2 separate regions of the Homo sapiens genome follow, and region 2 is linked to region 1. Evidence: fine-mapped expression QTL. Tissue or cell type: skeletal muscle. Region 1 holds a variant in brackets; the other region holds the start of a gene. All regions are shown on one strand. Distances are between the middles of the regions.

Region 1 (8,105 bases):
CTCAGGAGACAACTGTGATCTTTAGCACTGCAAAAATAAAACTTTAAATTTTAATTTTAAAAGAGTTGTAGATTAGAGATGGTCCATCAATTCACTCTCCAGAAACAGTATTGTGTACAGAACTTGTCATGTATCTCCAAAACTAATATCATCATCTAACCAACAACTTACAGATTATCTAGCTCTGAGCTAGAAAAACAATTCTCAGACTCTAGCTAACATTAATATTCACAGGAGTGAATCAATTCAAGAACTTCTAAAATATGTCTTCTTTTACTCTTTCCAAAACTGTTTCTACTTTGTTGTTTACCATAATTTGATTTCAATTCCTAAAGAATAAGTAGCGTATTTAAAAAAAAAAAAAAACCACATCAGTTTTCCAATCAATGTTTCGCCCCCATCTCCTGATGTATAAAATGCTCTTTAAATAAAACATGAATGGCTTACAGGTTTGGCGGCTCATGCTTGTAATCCCAGTGCTTTAGGAGCCTAAAGTGGGAGAACTGTTAGAGGCCAGGACTCCATGACTAGTCTGGGCAACATAGCAAGATCCTGTCTCTACAAACAATTAGAAAGTTAGCCAGGTGTGGTGGTGCACACCTGTAGTCCTAGCTACTTGGGAGGATGACTTGAGCCCAGAAGTTTGGGGCTACAGTGAGCTATGATAGCACCACTATACTCCAGCCTATATGACAGAGCAAGAACCTGTCTTAAACACACACACACACACACACACACACACACACACACACACACACACCCATGGCTTAAATATATTTTATACTCTTTGGCCCACACTACCACCAATAATCACCCAAATGAAGGCTATAAGCAATTAGACTACAGTAATGAGTTTTGTATTTTGGCTCATAATAAAAGACAGCATATAGTAACGTAAAATCCTAATATGGGAGAATATAGAGACTTAAAAAAAGGATTTAAGTCTTTAATCTTTAATCCATCTTGAATTAATTTTTGTATAAGGTGTAAGAAAGGGATCCAGTTTCAGCTTTCTACATATGGCTAGCCAGTTTTCCCAGCACCATTTATTAAATAGGGCATCCTTTCCCCATTGCTTGTTTTTCTCAGGTTTGTCAAAGATCAGATAGTTGTAGATATGCGGAGTTATTTCTGAGGGCTCTGTTCTGTTCCATTGATCTATATCTCTGTTTTGGTACCAGTACCATGCTGTTTTGGTTACTGTAGCCTTGTAGTATAGTTTGAAGTCAGGTAGCATGATGCCTCCAGCTTTGTTCTTTCGGCTTAGGATTGACTTGGCGATGCGGGCTCTTCTTTGGTTCCATATGAACTTTAAAGTAGTTTTTTCCAATTCTGTGAAGAAAGTCATTGGTAGCTTGATGAGGATGGCATTGAATCTATAAATTACCTTGGGCAGTATGGCCATTTTCACGATATGCATTCTTCCTACCCATGAGCATGGAATGTTTTTCCATTTATTTGTATCCTCTCTTATTTCCTTGAGCAGTGGTTTGTAGTTCTCCTTGAAGAGGTCCTTCACATCCCTTGTAAGTTGGATTCCTAGGTATTTTATTCTCTTTGACGCAATTGTGAATGGGAGTTTACTCATGATTTGGCTCTCTGTTTGTCTGTTATTGGTGTATAAGAATGCTTGTGATTTTTGTACATTGATTTTGTATCCTGAGACTTTGCTGAAGTTGCTTATCAGCTTAAGGAGATTTTGGGCTGACACAATGGGGTTTTCTAGATATACAATCATGTCATCTGCAAACAGGGACAATTTGACTTCCTCTTTTCCTAATTGAATATCCTTTATTTCTTTCTCCTGCCGAATTGCCCTGGCCAGAACTTCCAACACTATGTTGAACAGGAGTGGTGAGAGAGGGCATCCCTGTCTTGTGCCAGTGTTCAAAGTGAATACTTCCAGTTTTTGCCCATTCAGTATGACATTGGCTGTGGGTTCATAAATAGCTCTTATTATTTTGAGATACGTTCAATCGGTATAGTTTATTGAGTGTTTTTAGCCTAAAGGGGTGTAGAATTTTATTGGAGACCTTTTCTGCATCTATTGAGATAATCATGTGGTTTTTATCATTGGTTCTGTTTATGTGATGGATTATGTTTATTGATTTGTGTATGTTGAACCAGGCTTGCATCCCAGGGATGAAGCCGACTTGATCATGGTGGATAAGCTTTTTGACGTGCTGCTGGATTCGTTTTGCCAGTATTTTACTGAGGATTTTCACATCGATGTTCATCAGGTATATTGGCCTAAAATTTTCTCTTTTTGTTGTGTCTCTGCCAGGTTTTGGTATCAGGATGATGCTGGCCTCATAAAATGAGTTAGGGAGGAGTCACTCTTTTTCAGTTTTTTGGAATAGTTTGTAGAAGGAATGGTACCAGCTCCTCTTTGTACCCCTGATAGAATTTGGCTGTGAATCTTTCTGGTCCTGGGCTTTTATTGGTTGGTAGGCTATTAATTACTGTCTCCATTTCAGAACTTGTTATTGGCCTCTTCAGGGATTCGACTTCTTCCTGGTTTAGTCTTGGGAGGGTGTATGTGTCCAGAAATTTATCCATTTCTTCTAGATTTTCTAGTTTATTTGCATAGAGGTGTTTGTAGTATTCTCTGATGGTAGTTTGTATTTCTGTGGGATCGGTGGTGATATCCCCTTTATCATTTTTTATTGCGTCTATTTGATTCTTCTCTCTTTTCTTCTTTATTAGTCTTGCTAGCAGTCTATCAATTTTGTTGATCTTTTCAAAAAACCAGCTCCTGGATTCATTAATTTTTTGAAGGGTTTTTTGTGTCTCTATTTCCTTCAGTTCTGCTCTGATTTGGGTTATTTCTTGCCTTCTGCTAGCTTTTGAATGTGTTTGCTCTTGCTTTTCTAGTTCTTTTAATTGTGATGTTAGGGTGTCAATTTTGGATCTTTCCTGCTTTCTCTTGTGGGCATTTAGTGCACAAATTTCCCACTACACATTGCTTTTAATGTATCCCAGAGATTCTGGTATGTTGTGTCTTTGTTCTCTCTGGTTTCAAAGAACATCTTTATTTCTGCCTTCATTTCATTATGTACCCAGTAGTCATCATAAAAAATGATGAGTTCATGTCCTTTGTAGGGACATGGATGAAATTGGAAATCATCATTCTCAGTAAACTATCGCAAGGACAAAAAATCAAACACCACATACATGTTCTCACTCATAGATGGGAATTGAACAATGAGAACACATGGACACAGGAAGGGGAACATCACACTCTGGGGACTGTGGTGGGGTGGGGGGAGGGGGGAGGGATAGCATTGGGAGATATACCTAATGCTAGATGACCAGTTAGTGGGTGCAGCGCACCAGCATGGCACATGTATACATATGTAACTAACCTGCACATTGTGCACATGTACCCTAAAACTTAAAGTATAATAATAATAAAATTTTTTAAAAAAAGGATTTAAAAAGCAACTGCACGTAACCATAGCTAAATGATGACTATCGTTTATCTGTTTTTAAAAAAACAATTGATAGTAAAAATCTTTAAAATATACATGCTTGGCATACACTTCTGGGAAGATGAAATAAACATACTTTTCAGTATTTCTCCAAATAACACCTAGTGCATACCTAAAAACTCTGGAATATATATATATATATATATATCTCCAAAATAAAAAATATTCTGAAAGGCGGAAAGAAGAAGGCAGACCAACTAGGGAATGTGGGAGACACAAAATAACATAGTGGTGAATTCCCTAGTTTATCTTTTTGCCATATGTATCAGGCTATTTTAAAGTGAAGAAGCTGGAAACCTGGAAATACCAACAGGAACAGACAGAAAGAAACTCCAACAAAAACTTGCTCTCTCTAGCCAAAGAACCAGGAAAAGGTCATCCTATTAAGACAGAAAACTTTTAAACAATAACCACTACCCTGCTGTCAAACAGCAACCCCCTCTGCCCCCCACACCAAAAAACTGTGACCTAATCCCCACCCACACGAGTAAGGTCAATTGGAGATACTAGACTTTCACCACCATCAGGCAGTAACGAAGCACTCAAACCCACATTGGGGTAACGTAAGAGGTGGCTGACTGTTTAGGGACCCCAAAACCTTCTACTCCAGTAGGTAATAACAAGCTCCCACCACACAGTGGCAGTGGAGATTGCCTGGATTATCTGGACTTCCACCCCTAACCAGCATTAATAGGACTCCCTCCGTCAGCCTTCTCTGGTGGTATCAGAACTGCCCAATGGGACAGTTGGACTGAAAAAGTACATGAAGAAATAATGGCATACTAGTGAGGATGTGACTCAACCTCATTCATTGCTGGTACGAATGCAAAATGGTATAGTCACTTTAAAAGACACTGGCAGTTTCATACAAAACTAAACATAGCCTTACCATATGATCCAGCAATTACACACCTAGGTATTTACCCAAATGAGTTGAAAAGATGATGCCCATACAAAAAAAAAAAAAAAA[AC/C]TGCATACAAAAGCTTATACCATTTTTCTTCATAAATGCCAAGACTTGGAAGAAACTACGATGTCCTTCAACAGGTGAATGGATAAGCAAACTGTAGCACATCCATACAATGAAATATGATTCAGCAATAAAAAGAAATGAGCTACAAAGCCACAAAAACATGGGGAAAACATTAACTGCATATTGCTAAGTGAAAGAAATCAATCTGAAAGGCCACATACTGTATGACTCCACCTATATGATATTCTAGAAAAAGCAAAACCATAGAGACAGTAAAAAACACAGTTGTTGCCAAGGTTCCTAGGGGAAGTGGGAAAGGATGAACAGGTGGCACACAAGGACATTGTTAGGACAGTGAAACTATTCTGTATGGTACCGTAATGATAGCTACATGACATTGTGCATTTGGTAAAACCCTTAGGATGGTACAACACAAAGAGTAAACCCTAATGTCAATAACAAATAATATTAATAGTGTATCAATACTGGTTCATCCATTATAACAAATGTTCCACACTAATGCAGGATATTAATAATAGGAAAACTGTGGGGGGCGGGGAGGAAAACCCTGTACTTTCTGCACAATGTTTTTGGAAACCTAAAACTCTTTAAAAAAAAAAGTCTAATTTGAAATGTAAAATTTTAAAAATGACACAAAACTTTCCAAATTTGGAAAAAGACATAAACGTACACATTCAAGAAGCTGAATGAATCCCAAGCAGGAAGAAAACCAAGGAAATACACAAGTTACAACATAGTCACTTTGGAATACCATGGGCAAAGAAAAAAATTGACAAGAGAGAAACAACACCTTACCTATAGTGAAAAAAACCTATCTGAATTATCAGCAGATTTTTCATCAAAACCATAAAAGACAGCAGCACCAGTTACAATAGCCAAAAGCTGTTTACAACCCAGATGTCTATCAACTGATAAATAAATGAGCTGTTCATATTATTGAATGGTATATATCCAGCCAGGCATGGTGGCTCATGCCTGTAATCTCAGCACTTTGAGAGGCCAAGGCGGGCAAATCACCTGAGGTCAGGAGTTCAAGACCAGCTTTGCCAACATGGCGAAATCCTGTCTCTACTAAAACTACAAAAATTAGCTGGCCGTGGTGGTGGATGCCTGTAATCCTAGCTAATCAGGAGGCTGAGACAGGAGAATCGCTTGAACCCAGGAGGCAGAGTTTGCAGTGAGGCGAGATGGCGCCACTGCACTCCAGCCTGAAAGAGCGAGACTCCATATCAAAAATTAAAAAAAAAAAAAAAGAATGGTATATACTTGCAGTGAAATCTTATTCAGCCATAAAAAGGAACGTACATGAATGAACTCAGAAAACATTATGCTGAATGAAAGAAGGCAGATGCAAAAGACACCTATTATATAATTTCATTTACATGAAATATTCAGAATAGGCAAATACACAGAGACAGAAAGAAGTCATATGGTTGTCAGCAGCAGGAGGATGAAAAAGTATGGCCACTTAATGGGCTTGGAAGTTTCTGTTTGTGGAAATGAAAACATTTTGAAACATAATAATGGTGATGTTTGTAAAACATTATGCATGTACTAAATGTCACTCATGGTAAACGTTATGTGTATTTTACATTCTAGATTTTTGAAAAATAAGTATAAAATATTTAAAATACAAATTTCTATAATTTTCAATGAAAATATAGAAGACAGAAGGAAGTGGCACATTTGTCAAATGCTGAAAGAAAAGCACTGTCAATCTAGAATATTATATCTACCAAAAATACATTTCAGGAATGGAAGACAAATCAAAACATTTTCAGATGAAGGAAAACAAAAAGAATTTGTCATCAACAGAAATACCCTAAAAAAAAGTAGTGAATGAAAATTCTCTAAGCAGAAAGAAAATGATAAAACAAAAAACCATGGAACTACACTAAGAAAAAACAAAAAATGTAAGCAAACCCATGGGTAAATATAATAGACATTCATTTTTCTCTTGAATTTTCTTAATTAGGTTTGATGGTTGAAGCAAACATTTTTTTTTATAAAGAAAAAACTTCTCCTTGTGCGTGATTATTTGCCATTCACAGATATCTAGCAAAATGGCCTTTTTTTTTTAATACTTCAAGTTCTAGGGTACATGTGCACAACGTGCAGGTTTGTTACATATGTATACATGTGCCATGTTGGTGTGCTGCACCTGTTAACTCATCATTTGTATTAGGTATATCTCCCAATGCTATCCCTCCCCCATTCCCCCACCCCACGACAGGCCCTGGTGTGTGATGTTCCCCACCCTGTGTCCAAGTGTTCTCATGGTTCAATTCCCACCTATGAGTGAGAACATGCAGTGTTTGGTTTTCTGTCCTTGCAATAGTTTGCTCAGAGTGATGGTTTCCAGCTTCATCCATCTCCCTCCAAAGGACATGAACTCATCCTTTTTCATGGCTGCATAGTATTCCATGGTGTATATGTGCCACATTTTCTTAATCCAGTCTATCATTGATGGACATTTGGGTTGGTTACAAGTTTTTGCTATTGTGAATAGTGCTGCAATAAACATATGTGTGCATGTGTCTTTATAGCAGCATGATTTATAATCCTTTGGGTATATGTCCAGTAATGGGATGGCTGGGTCAAATGTTACTTCTAGTTCTAGACCCCTGAGGAATCTCCACACTGTCTTCCACAATGGTTGAACTAGTTTACAGTCCCACCAACAGTGTAAAAGTGCTCCTATTTCTCCACAACTTCTCCAATACCTGTTGTTTCCTGACTTTTTAATGATCGCCATTCTAACTGGTGTGTGATGGGATCTCATTGTGGTTTTGATTTGCATTTCTCTGATGGCCAGTGATGATGAGCATTTTTTCACGTGTCTGTTGGCTGCATAAATGTCTTCTTTTGAGAAGTGTCTGTTCATAGCCTTTGCCCACTTTTTGATGGGGTTGTTTGATTTTTTCTTGTAAATTTGTTTAAGTTCTTTGTAGATTCTGGATATTAGCCCTTTGTCAGATGGGTAGATTGTAAAACTGTTCTCCCATTCTGTAAGTTGCTTGTTCACTCTGATGGTAGTTTCTTTTGCTGTGCAGAAGCTCTTTAGTTTAATTAGATCCCATTTGTCTATTTTGGCTTTTGTTGCCACTGATTTTGTTGTTTTAATCATGAAGTCCTTGCCCATGCCTATATCCTGAATGGTATTGCCTAGGTTTTCTTCTAGGGTTCTTATGGTTTTAGGTCTAAGGTTTAAGTCTTCAATCCATCTTGAATTAATTCTTGTAAAAGGTGTAAGGAAGGGATCCAGTTTCAGCTTTCTATGTATGGCTAGCCAGTTTTCCGAGCACCATTTATTAAATAGGGAATTCTTTCCCCATTGCTTGTCTTTGTCAGGTTTGTCAAAGAGCAGATGGTTGTAGACGTGTGGTATTATTTCCGAGGGCTCTATTCTATTCCATTGGTCTATATCTCTGTTTTGGTCCCAGTACCATGCTGTGTTGGTTACTGTAGACTTGTAGTATAGTCTGAAATAAGGTAGCATGATGCCTCCAGCTTTGTTCTTTTGGCTGAGGATTGTCTGGGCAATGCGGGCTCCTTTTTGGTTCCATATAAACTTTAAAGTAGTTTTTTCCAATTCTGTGAAGAAAGGCATTGGTCACATGAT
Region 2 (8,105 bases), 270 kb after region 1:
TGCCAAGAGGCCAAAAACCACAAGAGGGCTGGGCAGGATGTCAGGAGGGGAGAAAATTCGGGCCTCTGCTACACCCCCCACTTCAAACCGTGTGACTCACTTTGGGTCCCAATTTTCATGTATGTGATAAAGTTTGAAGGACTGGATCTTGGATGTGGTGGGGTAACTGATGTGTGACAAATCTGCAGGGCTGTGCCCAGTTAGAGGGAAAGCTGAAGGTACTAATTAACTAGTTAAGCCTGGGAGAGGGCACAAGCAAGAGGTCAGCAGGAGAAGCAGACACTGGAGGACCGCCTGGCCCATACACCCTCTCCAAGAAAGGCAGTCCTCCAGTTCCTGCCAAGAGGACAGCAATGAGGGCTTGGGGTACAATGGAGTAGAATGGCTGCACTGGCAGCAGAAGGTAGCCTTGGGAGGGAGCCACTGAGTATGACTGAGGCCAAGATGAACCAAGCAGGTGGTCAGGGGCTAAGGGAAAGCGGAAGAGGCCCAGCTCCCTGGGAGGGAGGGACCTGCTCCTCTAGGGCCTCCACAGAATAGCAACAGTTACAAGGACAGTGGCCACAGCTCTTCCTGTTTTATGAGTGTTTGCTGAGTTTCAGGCTTCCTGTTAAGCACTATCTTCCATCTTGGGCAACAGAGCCAAGAGGATGAGCATGAGACAAATGGGCAGAGATGGCCTGAACAAGGTCAAGTTATAAGATGAGGACAGGCCACCCTGGTTAACCTGGAGTACATCACCAGGGAGGCAGAAAGACACAGAGCCCACGACTGTTGCCTAGGCTGAGCTGGGGCAACTGCGGGGAGAGGGCTAGGCAGATGCAAGGAGAGGACTGTGATCCATCATGAGCTGGCTAAGCTCCCTGGGCCCAGGCCTGCCCATGTACTGAGGTCCCCAGGTCCTGGTCTTCCTGGGCAATGGGCAGAAGCTATAAGTGGGGAGATGTCACCTTCCTCCTCGTGGCCACAGCTACCACTCACAAGACAGGTAAAATAACTGTACCAGAGGTTGTGCTTAGCCCAATATTGGGAGATAGTAAATGCCTGCTTAGCTGGGTAAGGACTTCTAGGCTTGGTCACTAGTGATACTAAGAACAGGAAGGTCCTGGAGTGGGAGCCACATCTAATCCATGTCCCCTTTGAGGGCCAATTTAGGGCCAGATCCTGAAGGTCCCAAGCTAGTAGCCTTAGCCATGCTCACCCATAAAGGGGTACAGAGGGAAATCCACTCCAGGCCTGACCCAATTCCCAGTCCAGAACAAGGAGAGCACTGATGAGGTGCTGTGGAAGTTCTTGCAGTCAGAAGTTACCCCAAGTCACTCATCAGACATAGCATCTATGGGGAAGGGGTTAAGTCCAGTCTTACTTAAAGCTGGCACTGTGTGGGCCTACAAATTCTGGTCTCCCACCCCATCCCTGACTCACCCACAGCATCTGGACACCACAGGGGCTGGTCAGAGCTCAGTCTTGGCCCACAGGGTCAAAGCCTTGGTATTAAGAAGTGGGTCTCTGGCCTCAATCCCTCACCCACCCAGCCTGCCCTCAATCCTAGCACAGGTGGAAGGTTAAATAGTGCCCAGAGGGGGATGAAAACTCTCATTCCTCATCCTCTTACCCCCGTCTGCCCTCAGAAGAGCCACTTTTTCCCTAAAAGACTCAGAGAATCCCATTCCTGATACTCTGAAAAGCTCCCCGACCCCATTCGACTGCTGGGTTAGTGGGCAAAGAAGCTATACCTGGGGCCCAGCCCCACCAGCCCAACCCTGATCCTCTCCTAGACCCACCCGCATGTTCCCCTCCAAGGTACTCCGGGGAGACAACCTCCTCTGTTGGCCCTAGTGGTCCTGGGAAAGACACAGAGAGCTGGGTCCAGCTCCCTGCTCAGATGCTTTAAGACCTTGTGCCTTAAATAAGTCCTGTAACCTCTCCAGACCTGTATCAGGTCCTGTACCAAGTGCTTTAAATGTATAATCTCATTTCATGTTCACAACAACTCCTTATCTTTCCCCATGAATAGATGCAGAAACCTGGCTTCCAGAGTCTAGGATATCATCCAAGGTCATGAAACTGGCAAACACAGGATAGCTATTAGCCATATCTAGAGGACTCTGCACTTGGACTCATAATTAAAACTTGTGTAAAGGCCGGGCACGGTGGCTCACGCCTGTAATCCCAGCACTTTGGGAGGCCAAGGCAGGCAGATCACGAGGTCAAGAGATCGAGACCATCCTGGCCAACATGGTGAAACCCTGTCTCTACTAAAAATACAAAAAATTAGCTGGGCGTGGTGGCGCACGCCTGTAGTCCCAGCTACTCAGGAGGCTGAGGCAGTAAAATCGCTTGAACCTGGGAGGTGGAGGTTGCAGTGAGCTGAGATTGTGCCACTGCACTCCAGCCTGGCGACAGAGTGAGACTCTGCCTCAAAAAAAAAAAATCTTTTGTAAAATGAGAAGGGCCTTTGCTGTACTTCTAGCCTCCAGGAGCCACTATCCCTGCCATGCTCTACCCATCCATTGGCACAAGCTACAAATGAGTAAAGACCCCAGAGATGACAGATTCAAGGGATTCTGGGTATGGGGTGTGGCCCTAGGCCCAGAACTGTATGCCTTAAGCTGGAACCAGGTACCCGCCCCCAGCATCCCCCTGACCCCCACCATGCCACCTATATCAGCATGCCAGGTCTCCAGGGAGCCTATAGTCTGAGGTGGCTAGATGGCTGGCCCGCCCTCTGCCCAGGAACCAGGGGTGGGTTGGCCCAGGGCCTGTCCCTTTCAACACGGGACCAGCGACTCGTCAGGAGTCTATCAGCAGCCTCCTGAGGCTCCACAGGTGCAGTGGGCATCAGCCTTGTCCTCTGGCCAGCCCTGGGAGGCTCACACCACTCCAGCCCAGACAGGCAGGGGCCACAGGGAAGAAGCAGTCCCACCCAAGCCTTGGTGGGGTCTCAGCTTCCAGCAAAGGGAAACAGATCCATTCCAGTCAGAGGAGCTTCACATGGAAGGGGCAGCCAAGCTGAACAAGAGATCCCCTTTGGGCCTGAACACATGGGTCCAGCCAGAATCCCAGAGTCAGGAGTCACCCCTTCCCTGCTTCCGGATACAGCATCTCTAGCCATAGTGACTCCACCCCTTGCTCACTGGGACACTCAAAGCTTAGCTAGGCTACGCCTCAGTTTCCCCATCTGTGAAGTAGGGAGGACCACAAGCCTGACCTTACAGGACAGTATGACGATGAAACATGTTGCTGAGCATAGGAAGCTTAGCAGGGGCGCTAGACATAGCTTCACTCACAGGCTTCCGCTGTGGACCCTCCAGGATACCCCAGGCCTCAGTGAGGGCTCACTGACCTTCAGGGCACACTTCTGTCCAGTGCGCCGATGGAAGCACTCCAGCACTTTGCCGTTCACACCCAGGCCCAGCACCTGCTTGGACAACTGGTAGTCGTCGGTCACTGCGTACTTCTTGGGCTCCCGCCGCCCCCCCGGAGCACCGCCCAAGCCGGGTCCGCCGGGTGCAACTGGCGGGGGCACAGGGCCCCCCTGCTCCTCTGCTGTTTCACCATCCATGGCCCCCGCGGGGCGCTCAGAGGCGGCCCCAGCCTGGCGCTTCTAGTGGCACCTGGGGGAAAGGGGAAGAGTGAGTCCCGCCCAGACTTTTCCAACACACCCCAGCCTTGGAGCCTCTGAACTGGGCTGGGCTGCGAGCCCGGGGCAAGCTGGGAGTGCGGGACGAACGGCCTGAGAGTACAGACGTGCAGCAAGGGGCGGTGGTCGCGCGGCGGGGTACAAGCGAGCACCGCCCGGGCACGTGTCAAGAAGGGAAGGGGCCGGGCGCCTAATGGCCGCGAGGTCCCCGGAGGAGGCCGCAGAGGGGGCCCAGCGAGGGCGTACCTGGCGGCAACGCACCTTGCTGAGGTACCGGCGAGGGGCAGGAGAGGCGGTCGCGGGAGCTGGCGGCCGCAGAAATCCCAGGGCCGAGAGTCGCGCTGCCGGCGCCCACGTGACCTCCCCCCCCTCCCCACCCCCCCCTCCCCCACTCCCCCACTCCACCCCCCGCTCCCTGCGCGTCATCCCAACTTGGGGCCCCGCTAGGTCAGCCTTAAAGGGCCAGGCGGGCCCCGGCTGGGTCCCGCCCCCGAGCCGGAACAAAATAGGAGGCGTGGCTTCCCGAGGGGGCGGTTACTTCCTCGGTTTCCAGGGACACCCAGGGAGGCCCCTGTACTGGCAGTCCGCTACTGTGCGGGTCCCGGGTTTTACTCGCAACCTAGAACGTGACAGCGCAGGACGTCTTATTTCTCTTGAAAGCTCTCCTTGAGTCGGGTGTTTGCTCTGCACGCTGCCAGGTGGCCCTCCAGTATGGCTTGCTAGGCTTCCGACTTGCCTAGTGTTGGCCAACCCTCAGCGTACTCAACTTTTTAAACATGCCGAGGGAGGTGGCATCTTGTCGTTGTTGAATTCGCCACTCTTTAGTCTCTGGTGGCTCTGGGAGTCTCCAGCACTGGCGACTGCCCCCTTTTTGCAGCTCCCGCTTATGCCCTTGACTCGCTGCTTCCCTTTGGTATATACAGCATCCTGGGGACCAGAAATCCCGAGTTGCCATTTGATCAGATCCGCCAACATTTCACCTTATGGTTTGGGCTTTTGGCGTCGTGTTTAAAAAGTCTCTGTCTCCCATCCGAGTGACAGATATTCTCCATTAGCTTTCTAGTTTTGCCTTGCACATATAAGTCTCTGTTAAGCCCATCTTAGACTACCTTACGTATTTTGAGCCAGTTTTCCCAACACCGGCTGTTAAGCAACTCTCATTTCACAGATGAGGAAACTGGGACCCCTGGGGAGAAAACAACTTGTCTAGAGCCATAGGGAGGGTGGCTGTGGCTGTCTTCTGGGACAGATCTGAACTACTTGCGCACATCACATCACTCCCCCAATCCGGAAGCTGAGGGACCTGAGCGAGCTGGCTCACTTGGAACTGGGAAGGTGCGGCTCAGCGCAGGGGCTCTGCATGGGCCTCTGCTGTCATCTACAGGCCATCTACAGGACTGCAGGTACCAGGACCTCGGTTCCACTCAGAGGCGTCTTCCAGCCATCCTACTCTTGGCTCCGGAATTTAGGCCCAGTGAGCGCCTCCCCCTCAGCCCCTCTGGTTAACACACGCACACTCACGGACCCCTGGGCTGCATGTGCAGGCTCATCAGAGAAGTAGCTCTTGGAAAGATGATCTTCTGTCAATGAATGAGTGAATGAGTGACTGAAAGGGTGCTACAACTTATTAGTGGGTACCCACTGTGTGCAGATGTTGAGTGGAGATGGGGTTGGGGCTCTGCCCCTATTTCTTTCAGGCAACCTTCAAGCTAGCAGTGTTCAGTGAAGCAGGAGGCTCCAGACAATAGCCTCAGCTGGCCATAGTGAACACTTCTTGCAGACCAGATGCTGGGAATGTGCTCTCCCTGCAACCCCCTGACCTTACAGAGCCTAGAGGAGGTCACACTATCCCTTCTGCCCCACACTACAGACACACAGGACAGAAAAGCCCAGAGAGGTTAAGTGACCTGTCTGAGGTCAGCAGCTGTCATGACAGAGCCCCCATTCCAACTCCAAAGCACAACCTCAGGGCTGGGCTCTTATCCTCAAACCATGGCCTCCTCTCCTAGTCCTTTCTGGCTCCTCACACAGCCACATGTGCAAACATACTCTCACACATGTACACATGCAGTCACACCTTTACACATGTGCACACACATGCATATAACACGTATAAACACACATGCATATAACACACATGCACACAGATACACATGCACATGTGCACACACACATGCATTTATGCCCAGCTGGACCCAGGATTGATGTCCCTGAGCCCAACCTGAGAATCTGATTCAAGATCTCAGAGCCTCTTTGAAAGCCCTATGATCTGGAATCTTCTACTGCTGGGGGGAGCCAAAGAAGGCTCTCTGCTCTCTGAAGGCAACTAGTTTGAGCCTGGTGAACCTGAGGCTGAGCAAGATGTCATTCTGGTGAGCAGAAGGCTAGGCAGCTGAGGGTGGAGGCTGGCTCCTTGCCCCAGCCAAAGGCATCCCACTGAATGTTCTGTGAAGATGTCTTCTTTCTTTAAAATGGAATTAGATTATAATTGCTCTACAAATTTTATAATTGTATTTTTTAAGCTGGTCTCTTTTATTAAAATTTTAAGTTGCATAAGTAAAACTTCCTCATTGTAATTAATTCAAATTATACAGAAGTATGAAAAGTAAGGCAAAGGTGCTGCTTCTCCCCTCCCAGTCCCTATAACCAGTGTCCATGCTTCCACAGGCACACGCATTCCCCACATGGGTCCATCGGAGAGATGCCTTGAAACTACTCACTTAGCCCAGGAAAGTCAGAATATGTGGTTTCCCTTAGTGCTCATGTTCCAGCAACCACCTGCAGCATCCCCTCCACAATGATGGGAGGATTTGGCATGCAGGATGGCTAGGTCTGGTCAGGAGTGGGTTCATGATGGCAGACTCTGCCACACAGCCCTTCATGTAGCTGTGTGTCCAAGGGGACAGAGACTTTGGAATAGCTTAAAGTGAGGGGGGCTAAATCCTACACACACACACACACACACACACACACACACACACACACACTCTGTCCTTACTGGAGAGGGGAGGCTGTACATGGTGAGAGGATGGAGGCCAAATGAGCGAGACTTTTGGGAAGGCACTGCTGTGTATTCTTGTGATTCATCTTGTGATTGTTCTGGGTAGGGAGTGGCAGGGGAATCTTGCAGTAAGTTCAATCCCTGGGGTGCAGGAGAGGGATTATCCTAGAAGAGAAGAATCTATGGAAATTTGGCTAGTGAGGGCATGAGAGGGGGCACCGCTAGGTGGCAGTGTGGGCCCAGCAATCAGAGCCAGGGTTTCTAGGGAGCAGCCAGGGCAGGAGAATTAAGTACTAAGTTGGCCAGAGGGACCCAACTTAGTACTTGGGGCAGAACAGGGGCACATCACTGTTCCCAGCATGCAGGTGAGGTGCACAGTGCTGTCATATTCACACACACACAAAAATAGTTGGAAGGCCAAAACCCTTGGAACCCTTTGGTTTACACATAGACTGCATAATCACTGACCTGTAGGAGATACTTTCAAAGGGACACCCATGGTGCTCTGACATGGACAGGCCTGGGGGCAGAGAAGCTTCACTGAGGACCTTAAAGCTGGATGTCTAGGAGTCGGCAGATCACCAGCACCCATAGAGGAAGTAGGAGGAAGTGTGTAGGCTCCTGGCTTAAACCATTACTTGCCAGCTGGGAGATCTAAGTTATATTGTAACCTCTCCATGCCTCAGTTTTCTCACCTGTAAAGAGGAGATAATATGTGGTAGTTGTGACAATGACATGAGGCTGCAAATTGCTGAGAGTGCTTGACACATAGTAAGTGTTCAGTTGAATAGTCATGGTGAGGGGGAAGAAGTATAGTTTTGGTAGAGAGCTTGGGATTTGGCCCCATAAGAGACCCAAGTTCAAAATTGTAACTCTGTTGCCTGGCAGCGGCAAAGTCCTTTTGTCTTCATAGTAATGAGACAGTGGACAGTTCCTACTGGCAAGTCAGTGGTCCACACAGGGGCCGCATATCAGGCTATCCAGGTATCCCAGCCCTCAAAGTGGGTTATAAGGTATCCATCCCCCCTACCCCCATTCCAAGAAAGTGGCTTCTGGCCAACTCAGGAGGGGGCTGGCAGAGTTGCACTCATGAAGCCCGGCTTCCCTTCAGGAAAGCTACAGAGAAGTGACTGCCCTGAAATCTGAAACTTAACGTTTTTTCCCCAGTTTCACAGGGTTTTGCTTTCAGGTTTCTTTTGCCCTCTGCCATTCTGGGCAGAGCAAACTGAGCCCTGTCTTCCCTGGATGCTATCGTTCAGGCCCTTCAACAAGGCCAGGGGTCTGTCATCCCTGCCCAGGATCTCAGAGCTAGACTCCTTTCTGGGGACCCTGGGGGCACACACTGGGAGGGGGATGGGGGTGGGGAGTGGACCCTGCAACCTCTCCAAATCCCACAGTTCTTCTGGCCCAAGGGTTTGGAGGAGATTCACAGACCCTACAGTCCTTCAAGATGCTCCATAG

Direction of the effects. Positions count from the first base shown, and alleles are read on the strand shown. Sizes are in standard deviations (SD) of each study's normalised expression.
In carriers of allele C in region 1, the expression in skeletal muscle of the gene that starts at base 3,980 in region 2 tends to be higher than with AC alone (moderate effect, 0.58 SD a copy in FUSION).

Evidence for each region. PIP is the estimated chance that this variant, and not a neighbour inherited with it, causes the effect.
Region 2: it holds the start of MAPKAPK3, and the variant in region 1 is fine-mapped to the expression of MAPKAPK3 in skeletal muscle (FUSION, PIP 0.95).

Annotation. Positions count from the first base shown.
Region 1 is chr3:50,881,722-50,889,826 of GRCh38, reverse strand. The region is part of intron 3 of DOCK3 (dedicator of cytokinesis 3); the gene reads right to left. Among named protein-coding and RNA genes, the nearest start is that of MIR4787, 210 kb to the right of the region's middle. The variant AC/C (reference allele first, on the strand shown) is at 4,462.
Region 2 is chr3:50,613,026-50,621,130 of GRCh38, reverse strand. MAPKAPK3 (MAPK activated protein kinase 3) reads right to left here and starts at 3,980. Exons shown (of 11, transcript NM_001243925.2): 1 at 3,890-3,980; 2 at 3,347-3,617. The coding sequence starts at 3,565. RefSeq lists enhancers at 2,354-3,306, 3,307-4,260, 5,128-5,217 and silencers at 3,527-3,676, 3,927-3,976, 3,987-4,036.